2 linked regions of the Homo sapiens genome follow. Each later gene encodes a partner of the first gene's protein in a complex. Each region holds a gene or a part of one and is shown in the gene's direction. Other genes may lie near its edges.

Region 1 (7,612 bases):
GCCCAATGTAGCCGGATCTTCCCATTTTTCCAGAAAGGCCAGAGATCTGCATTTTTGGGGTAGCATCTCTTAATTTTGGAACTACTGTCAAGAGCATTAGTCAGGGTTCTTTGTTGCCAATGACACAATCCACTCTAGGTAGTTTAAGCAGAAGTATTTTAATAGGGTGGTGAATTGTGGTCCCTCTTCCCTGCACCAAATCATATGTTGAAGCCCTAACCCTCAATGTAACTGTATCTGGAGACAGGATCTTTAGGAGGTAATTAAGGTTAGATGATGTCTTAAGGGTGGGGGCCTAATCCAATAGGACTACGGCCTTATAAGAAGAGGATGAGAGAGAAGAAGAGAGAGAGAGAGTGATAGATCTTTCTCTCTCTCTACCATGTGAGGACACAACAAGAAGGTGGCCATCTGCAAGCCAGGAAGAGAGCCCTCATCAGAACCCAGAACCTGACCATGCTGGCATCCCAATTTCAGAATTCCAGTTTCCAGAATAGTGAGAAAATAAATTTCTTTTTTCTTTTTTTTTTTGAGATGGAGTCTCGCACTGTCACCTGGGCTGGAGTGCAGTGGCGTGATCTTGGCTCACTGCAACCTCCACCTCCTGGGTTCAAGCGATTCCCCTGCCTTAGCCTCCTGAGTAGTTGGGATTACAGGTGCCCGCCACATGCCCAGCTAATTTTTTTTTCTTTTTGTATTTTTAGTAGAAACAGGGTTTCACCATGTTGGCCAGGCTGGTCTTGAACTCCTGACCTTGTAATCCACCTGCCTCGGCTTCCCAAAGTGTTGGGATTACAGGCACGAGCCACCACGCCCAGCGAGAAAATAAATTTCTGTTGTTTAAGCCACCCAGTATTTTGTTATGGCAGCCACTAAGACAGGTGGTTGAAAACTCTGTAGAATCTCCAGGAGGACAAGAGAGCCAGGTTCTGTCTGTGCAGCCAGAAATGACTCCCAAACCAGCTGTGGGGCTGCCCCTGTGAACACGTGACATGCCTTTCACCGTGGACACCAAGCTTACACAGGGGTGGAGCACCTGGAAGCAGATGGCTTGGCTGCCAGGCTCACTATCAGATAGATTCCTCCCTTTTGTTGTTCACTTCCTGGCAGAAATCTCATGTGATCTTCTAATGGCACAGCCTAGATCACATGTGACCTGTTTGCAAGGAAGATTCTGGAAAAGTGCTTTGGCTTCTCTGAGGGAAAGGTGGAACTCATAATGTGAGGCATTTTCCAAACATAGGAAGAGTATGCATTTGTGTGCTGCTTACAGCCCTGCCCATTGATGACATCTGCCCCATGGGCTACTTTCATTGTTTAAACTTCCACTTCTTCTGAGAACAACTAGAAAAACAAGATTAAATCATCATCATCGTCACCATCTGTTAAAAGACATTCAGAGAACTGCTGAAATAACCAGGACTAAAGGGGCCAAGATTCTGGAGACAGGAACACCGTGGTGAGGTGAGCTGATGTTCTGCAGCCGATTTTTCCCTGGGGATATTTGCACATTTGGGCACAGGGAAAGAGGCCGAGGTTCTAGACTCTTCCCAGGCATGAAGGCTGCTTTGGGGGAACAGAGAAACTGACAAAACTTTTAGCAACCTCATGGGGCTAGAAAGACAAAACTGGGGACTTGAGAGGCCATTATCCCAGGGAGAAGACAGGGGCAGAAAAGTGAGCCTGATAGATGGTGGTTTCCCCTCGAGGTATTTGGCAAAGTTTGAAATAGTGCAGGGCAAGAAGCAAAGAAGCCAAGCAGAAGGTCCCTCAAAAACAGAGCCGTTCCCACAGTCTCGCCATGCTGTGGAGATAAGGGTTAGAGCTCAGGACCAGAGAGAGGGGCCTTAGTGAACACCCAAGGTTCCTAGCTGGAACCCTGGAAAGGCACAGCATTAGAGGTAGGGAACAGAGTGAAGTGGTGTCTTATCAAAACTATAACCTGGTCTCCACCCAGCTCAGCCCCTGATTGGATTAAGATAATTGATCTGTATGCCATTTGTCTTGCAGAGAAAGGGTGCGTCCTCTCCAGAGTTAGATATTATCACCTGGAGACTGTACATTTTTTCAACGTCTGACATTCAATAAGAATTACAAGGCCTGCCAAGAGACAGGACCATATCACTGAAAATAAAGGGAAAAATAGTCAATAGAAAGAGACCCACAGGTGATCAAGCTTTTGGAGTTAGACAAATGCTTTAAAATAACCATAATTAACATGTTTAAGAAAAATGAAAAGTTGGAGAAAATAGATGAAAAGAGATAATTTTACCAGAGAATCGGATTTCATAAACTTCATCGTCCAAAAGATTGAGAACATAGAGAACTTACTTCACCTGCTCATTGACAGATGTTGAAAATACTGACTCAGTTCTGTATAGCTATAAATCCCATGGCTTACAGTATTGTTTTTCTTTCTTTGTGTTTTTTTTTTTTTTTTTTTTTTGAGACAGAGTTTTGCTCTTGTTGCTCAGGCTGGAGTGCAATGGCACAATCTCAGCTCACTGCAACCTCCGCCTCCTGGGTTCAAGCGATTTTCCTGCCTGGGAGTAGCTGGAATTACAGGCGCCTGCCACCATGCCAGGCTAATTATTTGTATTTTTAGTAGGGACAGGGTTTCACCATGTTGGCCAGGCAGTCTCAAACTCCTGAGCTCAGGCTATTCACCCGCTTCAGCCTCCCAAATTGCTGGGATTACAGGTGGGAGCCACCACACCGGGTCAGCTGGCAGTCTTAAAAAAAAAAAAAAGTGTGTTGAGGGAGAGCATCAGGAAAAATAGCTAATGCATGCTGGGCTTAATACCTAGGTGATGGGTTGATAGGTGCAGCAAACCATCATGGCACACGTTTACCTATGTAACAAACCTGCACATCCTGCACATTTACCCCAGAACTTAAAAATAAAGGTTGTCATTCAACGTGGCCACCACTGGCTCCTGTTCGCTCTGCTTTTCAAGTGGCTTCATTTAAGAGTGACATATTATACCATGTGTTCTGAGTATCACGTCTTACTCAGTCCTCAGCACAGGGCTCTGTTCACCTAAAGAAAGAGGTGCCTTTTGCTAATCATTCTAAATACATCTGTTGGGCAATGTGTGTTGGGAATACTATTAGATAAGGTGGTTAGGGAGATGAGGCCTCTCTGAGATGATATTTGAGTTAACAGTGACAAGAAGAAACCCACCAGGAGAGGATTAGGGTGAAGCATGTTCTGAGCACTGTGGACATAGAGTACAAAGATTTAATCAAGAGTCAGCAAACTTTTCTGTAAAGTGCCAGACAGTAAATCTTTCAGGTGTTGTGAACCACCGGTCTCAGCTGCAGCTACTCAACTCTGCTTTACAACGCAGGAGTAACCACAGACAATAAACAGATGGGTGGTGGTACTCCAATAAAACTTTACTTGTGGACACTGAGATGTGAATTTCACATAACTTTCACGTGTCACAAAATGTTATTTTCATTTTTTTCCAACCATTTTATTTACATTTTTAATTTTTGAATTTTTAGTAGCGACAGGGTCTTGCTATGTTGTTGCCCAGGTTGGTCCCAAACTCCTGGCCTCAAGCGAGCCTCCTGACTGCCTCCCAAAGTTCTGGGGATTACAGGCATGAGCCACCTCACCAGGCTTCCAAAAATTTCAAAAGGTAAAAACCATCTTAACTGTGGAGCCATCGTTTGCTGATATAACGTCAGTTAGGTATGCTGGGGTCAGGCCACACAGACACTTGTAGGACATGGGAATACTCAGAATAAGGCAAAGGCCCTTTTCCTCGCCAAATGGAAAGCCATCAGGGCGGGCCAGGCTACCAAGTCTAGGAGGCAGCTTCCTGAAATTCACGGAAGATCATCAGGTTCGCTTTATTTTTTCCCCAGTAACAAGAAAGGACAAACGAACAAAAAAGGCACACACACACAAACACACACCCAAAGGACAAACGAACAAAAAAGGCAAACACACACACACACACACACCACCCCCGAGCTAAAGACAGACGGGATGTGCCCAGGTTCACGCCGACGCCTCTCCGGCGCGCACCGAGGGTTTTAAAGTTGGGCGCACACCTGCTCCCAGCCGGAGCGCACCTGCTGAGCAGCACTCCGGCCCGGTCTCGCGAGAGCGGTGCAGGAGTAGTGGCCCCCACCCGCTCCCCGCCACCAAATCCCTCTCCCCGCCCCCTCGCCCAGCCTCCAGGCTCGGGCACACTCCCGGCCTCCCCCGCCGCCCCCGGGAGCAGGCTGGGCCCGATGCGCGCGCTGTCTCCGCGCCCCCGCCCGCCGATCGCTCGCTTGCTCGCTCGCACGCACTCCCGGTAGTAATTTCACTTTGCCACGCGAGCTCCGCAGCCCCTAGAAATCCCGCCCCCCGGCCAGGTGCGCGAGTCTGCGCGCTCCTCCTCCGCCTCCTCCGACGGGTCCCTGGCGCGCCGGGGCCGGGGCCCGGCTGGGGCGGCTGCGCGCACGGCGCCTCTCCACCAACCCGCTCCCCTGCAGGTCCCTCGCTTGGTCTCCATCCCTCTCCGGCGCTCCCTCGCTCCCCCCCGCCCTTTGATTGACAGGCAAGATGTCGGTGTGGAGCGAGGCAGGAGCGATTGCAGCAACCGTCACCCCCGGAGCCCGGCGGCGGCAGCAGCAGCAGCAGCAGCAGCGCGGGGAGGAGACAGCAGCCAGCCGCAGTAGCCGCCGCAGCCGCGGGAGCAATGCAGACAGCACCTTGAGAACGCGCTAAAGCACTCCAAACCGTGGACCATGCCGTGTCCCTGCAACTGGGAGGGGGGAAAACCAGATTTTTTTTGACATAAAAGCAAGCCAGCCAAAAATATATAATTTTGTCCTTCAAGGAGCCGGTGTGTAAAGAGTGAGCGCTATTTTCCTTCTCCTCCTCCTCCTCTCCCTCCTCCTCCTCTCCCTCCTCCTCTCTCTCCTCCTTCTCCTCTTCTTTTTCCTCCTCCTCCTCCTCCCTAAGTGTACAGACAGCATCACATCACCTGGTTTGCTTCTGAGAAACAGCATCTCTCCTTTTCAGGGACCAGAGACTCAGAGAGAGAGGAGACATTCTAATGGAGTCCGCTTGATATCCCAAAATAAAATAATAAATTTTGGCTCTTGTCCCCTCCTCCCACTCCCACCCCCTCAACCCTGTGTGAGATGTTGGATTTCTTCTTCATGAGACATTGTTGAGAAGTCGCAGTGGTTGGAGAGGCGGAGGGTAGACTACCTCTACTCCCCCCCCTCTTTTTTCTCTCTGGGAGGAGGAGGAGGGGAAGGGGGTTGCAGAGCAAGCGATGGATGAGGAAAACATGACGAAAAGCGAGGAGCAGCAGCCTCTGAGTTTGCAAAAAGCCTTACAGCAGTGCGAACTGGTCCAAAACATGATAGACTTGAGCATCTCCAACCTGGAAGGGCTTAGGACCAAATGTGCTACCTCCAACGACCTCACACAAAAAGAAATCCGGACCCTGGAGGTAGGTGTTGCCTACGGGAAAAAAAAAAAAAAAAAAAAAAAAAAAAGCAATCCTTCTTTCCCCCTCCTTTCTCCCCACGGTCCCCTTTCCCTCTGATTCTGTTTATTGGGGGCTGGGGGTGGTGGTGTGGGCAAGCAAGGTGGGCACGGTTTGCTTTTCTGTGATTTCTCTCCTTGCAAAGCCTGCATTGGATATCCTTTTACTGTGCTGCTGTCGTCTGCGCTTGGCTGGGTGGTGGTAGTAGTAGTAGTAATTGTTATTCTTTATTTATTATTATTGTTGCGGCTGTTACCGTTGTCATTCGCTTCCTCGCTGAGGAGGGAGTTCTCTCTTTTTTCCGCTTGTGGATTTGTTTATATGCCACGGGGGCTTGTGTGCCGGGTAATACATTAAGGAGCTGCAGAGAACCCACGTGACCTTGCGCATTCTGCAGGTGGTCAAAAGGTGGTTTTTGCTCACAGAATGGGGCCGCCTGTCAGTGTAGACCTCTTCTTCTCTTGGCCTTCTTCCCCTCCCTCCTTTTGCTCCTTAGATTTTTTGTTTTAAATCAGTGATATACATGTCAGGAGGCAAGATGCATGAAAAAAAAAATTCCTATGGAACTACCCATTTCCAATCCAATCGTTTTGATGCAGTGAGCTGTTGCAGGCCTAAAACGTACAAAAGGGAAAAAAAAATATGCCTCAATCAGCACACATAGGTGGTGTGGGAGAATACTCCTGAATCTCAGTGGGACTGTGAGGAAAGAGGAAAGGGGTCGGGGAGGAGGAGTTATCTTTGGCTTCTTGTGACATTCTCTCCGGCAGAACTTGAGGGGGAGTTTGAAACAGTTTTTTGGGGGAGTGGGATGGGATGAAGGGTGGTTGCAAAGTTACTCAGAAAGAAGATGGCAGAAATTATTTTTTTCTGAAGGCCATTTGGTCAAAGGAGGAAGGTTTAAAGAGGCTTAGGAAATGCCAAATGCCTGGTGTCCACGAGATCACTGGACATCTGCATTGTTCAAAATGTTTGAAGGGTTCAGCTCACTTCCTTCTCCCAAACCAACCCAGCTATACGCATGGGTTGATTAAATTTGGGAACTTCCATTAGCTGGCATCCGCCGAGGGTGGGGGCAGTGGGGCTGAGAGAACAGGGGTTCCCTCTGTGGTGGAGTGGGCATGAGCAGTACTGAGACGTTCATCTTGGTCCTGGCACATGAGTTCCCAAGGCCTGAACTCGTCAGTCCGTAGTGAATCTTGTGGCCCTCCTGCCCCTGTTGTAGCCTGGATGGGTGCTTTTCTCGGATTCGCTTTGGGTATTTCTTTTTTTTCCGTGATTTTTAAATTTGGCTGGATGTCAACATGCAGGAGGTCATCCCTTTGAAAGAAGAGAGAGAGAGAGAGGGAGGGAGAAAGAGAGGGAGGGAGAGAGAGAAAGAGAGAGACAGCATGTGTGTGTGTGTGTGTGTGTGTGCGTGCGCGTGTGAGAGAGAGAGAGAGAGAACATGCTGTTTGCTACCCTAGGATGCATGTCTGTGTGCACCTGTCATCTGGAAATGTGATCCTCAGAGATGAAATAAGATCAATGTCAAGGTGTATCGGGAGAGTGGGAATTGTGTTGGGAGGCACAGGTATTGCCTTTCCTGGAGCTTGGGAGAGCAGGTGAGGCCGGAGCTCTGTTGCTGGAAGAAAAAGTGTGGGATGTTCTGATCCAGCCTTCTGTCTCTGCCTGAACAGTGCCCAAGAGCAGACTCTTCAGACCTGCATGCAGTCAATAAATAACCCCAAAAAAGCCACCTGAGCTCTCTTCTGTTCCTCTGAATCAGGAGTCCCAAATGCTAGTTTGTGTATTCCTGTGTAAGTTTCTTCGAAGTTTTCTTTTTTTTTGTTTCAAACATGCTCCATCCTCTGATAGCTTCCTGGATGGGGATGTGCCGCAGTGGGCATTGCCTTCTTTCTGCCTAGTGGTTTTCCTTTTAAACTGGGGGGATGGAGGCACTGGTAGGATGGCTATGGGGGAGTTGCAGTTGTAGGAAATGCATCTGTTTTCAGTTCCCTTGTCCCAGTATGCTACAGAGCATGCAACCACTTTCATCCATCTTGCCCAGGGAATGCTCTTGAGCAATTATTCCAATTTGTATTTCCCAGATTTGCAGGGTTAGGGAGGGC
Region 2 (7,000 bases), on another chromosome or scaffold:
TTCAGTTCCCACTTACTAGTGAGAACATGCGGTATTTGGTTTTGTATACCTGCGTTAGTTTGCTGAGAATAATGACCTCCAGCTCCACCCATGTTCCCGCAAAGGACGTGATCTCGTTCCTTTTTATGTCTGCATAGTATTCCATGATATATAGAGGAGAAATCTGAAATGTGGCAAGGTTAAGTGACTTGTCCATGGTCACACAGCTGGTTGATGAACAATTTGTGATAAGAATCCAGGACTCTTGAATACTAGTGATTTGTCAACACGATTCCATCTCCAGTCCTCATCCATACACACCTGCCATTAGGAAAGTCTTTACCACCCCAGCCTATAGTCTTTGTCATTTCTCTCACTGGCCAGCTTCTGAAAGTACAGGTCAGAAGCCAGTTCATTAGCTGGTAGGGTGGGTGGTTAAACGGCAAGGCATAGGAGGTAGAGGAGGGAGAAAGGAAGCACAAAGCTCAGGCTTAGTTTTTCCTCCAGAAGGTGTAAGAATTACTTATTTCAAAGAGTCAGAAAAGTGAACAGAGTCAGCATTCCCTTTTCCTTTGCAAATTGATTGAATTTCTATGGCGAGTATTAGCTGCAAGGCAGTGTTAATCTGCTCCAGCAGATCCATCATCAGATTGATGTGCAGGGGAGACAGGATTGTCTCTGGTGCAAAGGCCTTTTTGTGTAGGGCACACCATCTTTATGTATGATTGAGGCCTGGTGTGTTAAATGCCTCACACTGGGATCTTACCCATGTTTGTCAGTTGCCTCCCTTGAAAGTATTGAGCTTTTTGAAGATAATATAGCATCATGGTTAAGGTAAGACATTCGTTCTCTCTGCCTGAATTTGAAACGTGGCTGTGCCACTTACCAGCTCTTTGACCTTTGACATCTTAGTTCACCTGTCTGTGCTTGAGTTTGCTCATCTGTTCTAATTAGGGGTTGTGGATTAAATGACTTAATAAATGTAAAGCACTGAGGAGAGTTACACAGTGTTGTGAGGAAAGCAGTTTTTCTTCCATGCAGCCCTCCTTCCATTCCCCCATCATGCACAGTGTGTGTGTGTGTGTGTGTGTGTGTGTGTGTGTGTGTGTGTTGACAGCTTTTCGAATCTGCATTTCTAGCTGGCCTGCTGAGCCTGTCAGGCAGCTGTAACCTCACTCAGGTTTTAGCTGTGGGGTCCATCTACATTTGACATGTGTTTCTAAATGTGGTCCTCAGTAAGCTCCTTTGTGGGGAGACCTTGGAGAAAGGAAACCAGAGAGTGTGCACTGTGCACCCCCAGCCACACATGTTCTGGGTTCCCACACCTTAGGGACTGGGGACACTGCAAGACATAGCCGAACCTTGGATGAAAATATTGAGTAGCTGCCTCAGTTTGCTTGGACTGCTATGATAACATATCATAGACTAAGTAGCTTAGACAACAATAGTTTATTTTCCCACTGTTCTGGAGGCTGAAAGTCTAAGAGCAGGGTGCCAGCATGGTTGGGTTTTGGCAAGAGCCCTCTTCCTGGCTTGCAGATAGCTGCCTTCCTACTGTGTGCTTGCATGGCCTTTCTTTGATGTGTGCAGCAGGTGGGGTGGGGGGAAAATCAGTGAGGAAAATCAGTAACCTCGGCCTTGCATCTTCTTTGGTCCCATGCATGATGTTATTTGTAAGGCAGTGTCAGATCTCCTCATACATGGAGAGGCATTAAGTCTTCATTTCCCTGTCTTCTAGAGGTTTGGGATAGAGGGTGTGAAGGAAGAGCAGATTATGCTTACTCTATCTTTTAAGCTCAGAACTGGGGTGTGTGTGTTGGCAGGAACACCAACATGATGATGTATAATGAAGGCCTATCTTGTCACCTGTGTCACTTCAGCCACCCCACACAATTGTCACTGACATGCTTCACCTCCCGGGACTTCAATTTGAAACCCAATGAAATCCAGTGAAACACAGTGGAAACTCTTACCACCTTCCTGTTAACCAACTCACAGGAGTGATGAACACTTTTCAGTTCCCTGGATGAAACACTCTTGAGCAATGCCCACAGCATGCTGAATGCACTGCAGGCAGGCTGCTCTCTGCCATACCCACTCGCTTCAGCACCCACTGGCTGAATTATGTGCTTACCAAGAGCCAGCTTGTTCCCAAACCCATTTGTTCAGCTGTAGCTGGTATTGTAGTTAAGTAATGTATTTAGGTATCAGATAAACTGATGAAATGTAGCTGCAAATGAAGTGATTTTTTTCCCCTATGAACACTAGTTAAAAGCTGTGGAAAGACTTATAAGTCCAAGTCACTAAAACACATTACTGTCAAACTAGATGAACATTAAGATTGGGGGAAATCATAAAACTCTAGAATTTTATATTGTGATTACTCTGCAAGTAATCACAATATAACTTTAACCAGCTTTAACAAATCAGGAATAGGAAATTGTCGACAATGTATTATGTTCTGGTCCATGTGCGAAGGATGATGTGGACCTCTTAACCAGTGGGTCCTCTTTGGACCCTTATTCAAAGAGTCTTGCCCTATGTTAAAGAATGGGCGAATGAATGCAGATTTATATACATTGAGTAAAAATAAGAATTTTAGATATGTAATTTTTATGATTTTTTGCTGTGACTTTTTTGATTAACCTGGTTCCTGGACCTGATTACATTGAAAATGAGGATTTCTACTGTTGTGATTCAGTTTAAAGTTGGTTTGATTTCATTTTAGTGAATTTAGGGTATTTTATTTTGCGTATGGTAAAAACAATAAAACCAACAGTAGTGGGGCTTTTTAAACTGGGGTTTTAAAGCAAATTAAGGTGGCTCATTCTGGATTTTAGTAGGTTCTTTTGTTCCTCTCATTGACTTGCAGCATACTGAGTGAGAAAGACCTAATTTTTTCACTTTATAAATGAGGAAATTGAAGCCCTGAGAGGTAAAGCATGTTGGTGATAGTCATCCCGGGTGGCTGGAGTGAAGTGGGCAGAGCCACAGTGGGAGGGGGCCTCCTCTCTAGCCTCCCACTTTGATTATCTGTCTGGCCCCAGACCTGGAGCTTTCTTTCCATGATAGGAGTACTTCTTTGGGTTGACTTCTCTGGTGACAGTATTGACTTGTGCTCCCCACTTTGGAACAGGACCAACTTGGAGGCCTTGCAGAAGAAGCTGGAGGAGCTAGAGCTTGATGAGCAGCAGCGAAAGCGCCTTGAGGCCTTTCTTACCCAGAAGCAGAAGGTGGGAGAACTGAAGGATGACGACTTTGAGAAGATCAGTGAGCTGGGGGCTGGCAATGGCGGTGTGGTGTTCAAGGTCTCCCACAAGCCTTCTGGCCTGGTCATGGCCAGAAAGGTGAGTTTGCCTTGATTAACAGGTAATTGGATTATTTCTCAGGGTACTTAGAAGCCTGGGGACCAGGGTAGAAGGAAGACTGATTTTACTCAATACCTTTTTGTGCTGTTTGAATTTTTTTTTTTTTTTAAGACGGAGTTTCATTCTTGTTGCCCAGGCTGGTGTGCAACCTCCATCTCCTGGGTTCAAACGATTCTCCTGCCTCAGCCTCCTGAGTAGCTGGGATTACAGGCATGCGCCACCATGCATGGCTAATTTTTTTGTATTTTTAGTAGAGACAGGGTTTCTCCATGTTGGTCAAGCTGATCTCGAACTCCTGACCTCAGGTGATACGCCCGCCTCAGCCCCACAAAGTGCTGGGATTACAGGTGTGAGCCACTGTGCCCAGCCGTGCTGTTTGAATTTTGAATGCTTGTTATCTATATTAGATTATGGATAAACACACTAATGACTGTGTTAGTGTATTAATCCCCATCCCATCTGGAAAATAATAAGTGACTCTTTTTTAGCCTTCTGTGTGCTGTGGAAGGAATGCCAGGATACCTGTTTATTACTTATCAAGTGCTGGAGAAGCTGCTTTCATTCACCCAGCCCCAGCGATGCACAAAACAAGGATTTCAAGTTGTTTCCCTCTTGTGCTCCAGCCCTGCCAGTGAATCCCCTTTATCTTCCTGCATTATAGCATCTGAACTCCTATCATAGCATGTACTTGTAGAGCTGGACTTCCCTTTCCTATCTACCCTTGGTCCTCTTTTGGAATACAGCCCCTTGCTCCAGAGAGGTTGGGCTCTTCAATGTTTTTTTGCACATGGTGTTCACTCCTGTGCCCATAATTTTTTTGTGTGCTGTTGCTTCTGTCTTTTCAAACAGTGCCCATTTTCTAGGTCCACCTCTTGTCTAGCTTTTACCAGGTGCCCCAGCCCACACTGGTAACCACTGCATCCATGTTCTCTGACACTCGCTGTCTGTGGGATTTTTTTAGAAGTTCAACCTTACTACGTAACTATTTAATGTGACTGTCACTTGTCTCCCCAGCTGGAACAAGGGAAAATGTTAGGATGACATAAGGTAGCACCTTAGACTTTGGCTTAGTCTCAACCACATCAGGCTCCTGAGCTCAAGGAAGAATCTTTTGGGCAGCCTAGGTTAGCATACCTGAGTTCCTCATACCCTTCTACTTTCACAACTCTTGAGTGTGAACCAAGTCCTCAAGGTCAATTTCTTTTCATATCTGAGCTCCAAAGCCTCTCTTGGAGTAAGCCCTCCCTTAACTTTGTTCCTGTCTAGGCTCCCAGGAGCCGAGGCACAGCTGGAACAGCCTCCAGTGCCAATGCCTGCCTTAGTACAATGACACTCATTTCTTGGTTGAGCAGAAACTTGTTTGTAACAACTTAACCTGTTTCTCCTCCCTCTACCTTAAAGAGCTTAAACATTTAACAAGACTATATCTTTCATCCCTTCCTCCCTCTTTCTTTCATAAAACCTCTCTTTCTTCCACCTTTCTCCAGCTAATTCATCTGGAGATCAAACCCGCAATCCGGAACCAGATCATAAGGGAGCTGCAGGTTCTGCATGAGTGCAACTCTCCGTACATCGTGGGCTTCTATGGTGCGTTCTACAGCGATGGCGAGATCAGTATCTGCATGGAGCACATGGTATGTGACACCCTCTCAGCCTCTGGAGCAATGGCCTTAAGAGTTGGGTGGCTCTGGCCTAATCTTTGGTCTGGGAGGTGACCAGCTACCTCCCTGCTGCTCCTGGGATCCACATCACTATCTGGGGCATCTGGGAAGTCTAACTGTAGAGCTTGGGATATTCACAAGATGGCAGGCCTCCTTTCTAGGTCCTTGCCTCTCTTGAAGGAAGTGGGCAGTATTCCTGGTGGGTGTACCTAGAGCACCTCTCATAGTTTTTTTGATTCTGATTACCCTAAGATGTGATGTAAGTAAAATCTGGTAAATACAGTTTAAATCCATTTCTTGTGTACAATGCTGTATGCTAGGTGCAAGGCTCTGGAGTTAAAAAGATGACATAATCTACTGTAAGGGCAGCCTGAAGGGTTTCTCTGGGTTTCTGTATGATGCACGTTAGTGGAAGGAGAGGGCAATGGAGAGAGAGGGCATTCATGGGCTAATTAATCATATGCATGTTAGCTGCCAATCATTTTACCACTATGTTCTTGGAGTCCCTCCTTTTCTTCAGATATAAGTCTTCCAACACACTGTGCAACTTAGGGAATTCTGCAAGTATTAGTCTTTGCTTTATTCTCCCTGGGCTGATGGCTTAGAGATGAGGGCTGACGTGAGTCTGCACACTTGGTGGCTGTTGTGCTTTCAGTCCAGTATTGTGTCTCTCAGCTCCTACCCCATTTTATTCCTGATACTTGAGACCTGCCCTGACCTTTAGAATAGGGATCCTGGTGTGCAGCCTTAATGAACTTTAGAAGAACCCTCCTGGGAGGATTCTCTACTTGTGCCTCCATTATTTTGAACCTCTCTTCATTGTAATGATCACGAAGTGCTGCATCCACTGTTATAGGCATCTGCTGACATTTGTGGGTGCCATATGGAACCTAAATCCTAAAAACGTCTTCTGCACATCTAAAGGTTAGAGAAAGTGCTTGTTCCTTCTTTCCTCAATGAGAGCAGAGCATTCTCTGTGGGAAGCATATGAACATTTCTGGCTTGGTCCTAGTGCTTGGCCTGGGGTGCTGATTATTTTCTGCTTGGGTCTTGGCTTCCCCTCAGGGAGCTGTTTCTTATCCCTTGGGTCTCTTGTGTTCTTTTTTTTTTTTTTTTAATTTATTTTTATTTTTTAGGGTGATGAAGGGTTTTTTTCCCCTTTCTTTTTTTTTCTTTTTGTTTTTTTAGACAGAGTCTCGCCCTGTCACCCAGGCTGGAGTGCAGTGGCGCGATGTCGGCTCACTGCAACCTCCACCTCCCAGGTTCAAGTGATTCCCCTGCCTCAGCTTCCAGAGTAGCTGGGATTACAGGTGCGCACCACCACGCCCCGCTAATTTTTTTCTATCATTACTAGAGATGGGGTTTCACCATGTTGGCCAGGCTGGTCTCGAACTCCTGACCTCATGATCTGCCCGCCTCGGCCTCCCAAAGTGCTGGGATTACAGGCATGAGCCACCGTGCCCAACCAATCTTTTTATTTTTCTTACATTGACCTCTTTTGAGATACTAGGAGGCTTCTTCATTTACATTGACCTTTTTTGAGATGCTAGGTGGCATCCTTATTCTGGAATTCTTTATTCACTTTGAACTTACAGATGTTGATCACATCTCTTGTGCCCTTGCCATGTCCTCCCCTTCCTTCAAGCCTTCCTCCTCCTTCAGGAGAAAATGACACTGGAAATGACTGGAGTTGGTTTCCCATTCTCTTAGCCCATTTCCAGTGACTGCAGGTCAGTTTTTCCCCCCATGGATTTGGCTCTCTGGAAATAGTGAGATGTTCCTGCACAAGTCTCTGGAGTTATCGTGGAGAGCATGAGACTGGGAGGGGAAAATGTTTCAAGGGCCAAGCACAGTGTCTGGCACCTGTTAGGTGGTATGTGTTGAGTGACTGAATGAGAGTGGCCAGGATGGGGAAGACCTGGTCAGGCTTGGGACTCGATGGGGGAGGGTTAGGCCTTGGAGCCTGCCATAGGACCTTTTGGCCCTGGGTGT

What was found. Proteins that work in one complex are often made in the same cells at the same time.
Region 2: the proteins of KSR2 (region 1) and MAP2K1 are in contact, whole or in part, in a crystal structure (PDB 7UMB), measured with the Homo sapiens proteins. Residues at the interface, in NP_775869.4 of Homo sapiens: Lys674, Arg818, Asp820, Lys821, Leu822, Arg823, Ile824, Gln825, Asn826, Ile837, Arg838, Gln839, Leu840, Ser841, Pro842, Gln877, Pro878, Ala879, Glu880, Ala881, Ile883, Trp884, Gln885, Gly887, Thr888, Met890; in NP_002746.1 of Homo sapiens: Val81 (codon at 3,276), Glu102 (codon at 4,847), Met219, Ala220, Asn221, Ser222, Phe223, Val224, Gly225, Thr226, Arg227, Ser228, Met230, Arg234, Leu235, Gln236, Gly237, Met308, Ala309, Ile310, Phe311, Glu312, Leu314, Asp315, Val318, Asn319.

What each region holds. Positions count from the first base shown.
Region 1 is NC_000012.12:117,965,929-117,973,540, reverse strand, and holds the start of KSR2 (kinase suppressor of Ras 2), read left to right. Parts: upstream 1-4,550; 5' UTR 4,551-5,285; coding exon 5,286-5,465; intron 5,466-7,612. UniProt on the Homo sapiens protein: Location-regulated scaffold connecting MEK to RAF. Has very low protein kinase activity and can phosphorylate MAP2K1 at several Ser and Thr residues with very low efficiency (in vitro).
Region 2 is NC_000015.10:66,431,912-66,438,911, forward strand, and holds part of MAP2K1 (dual specificity mitogen-activated protein kinase kinase 1), read left to right. Parts: intron 1-3,115; coding exon 3,116-3,326; intron 3,327-4,834; coding exon 4,835-4,981; intron 4,982-7,000. UniProt on the Homo sapiens protein: Dual specificity protein kinase which acts as an essential component of the MAP kinase signal transduction pathway.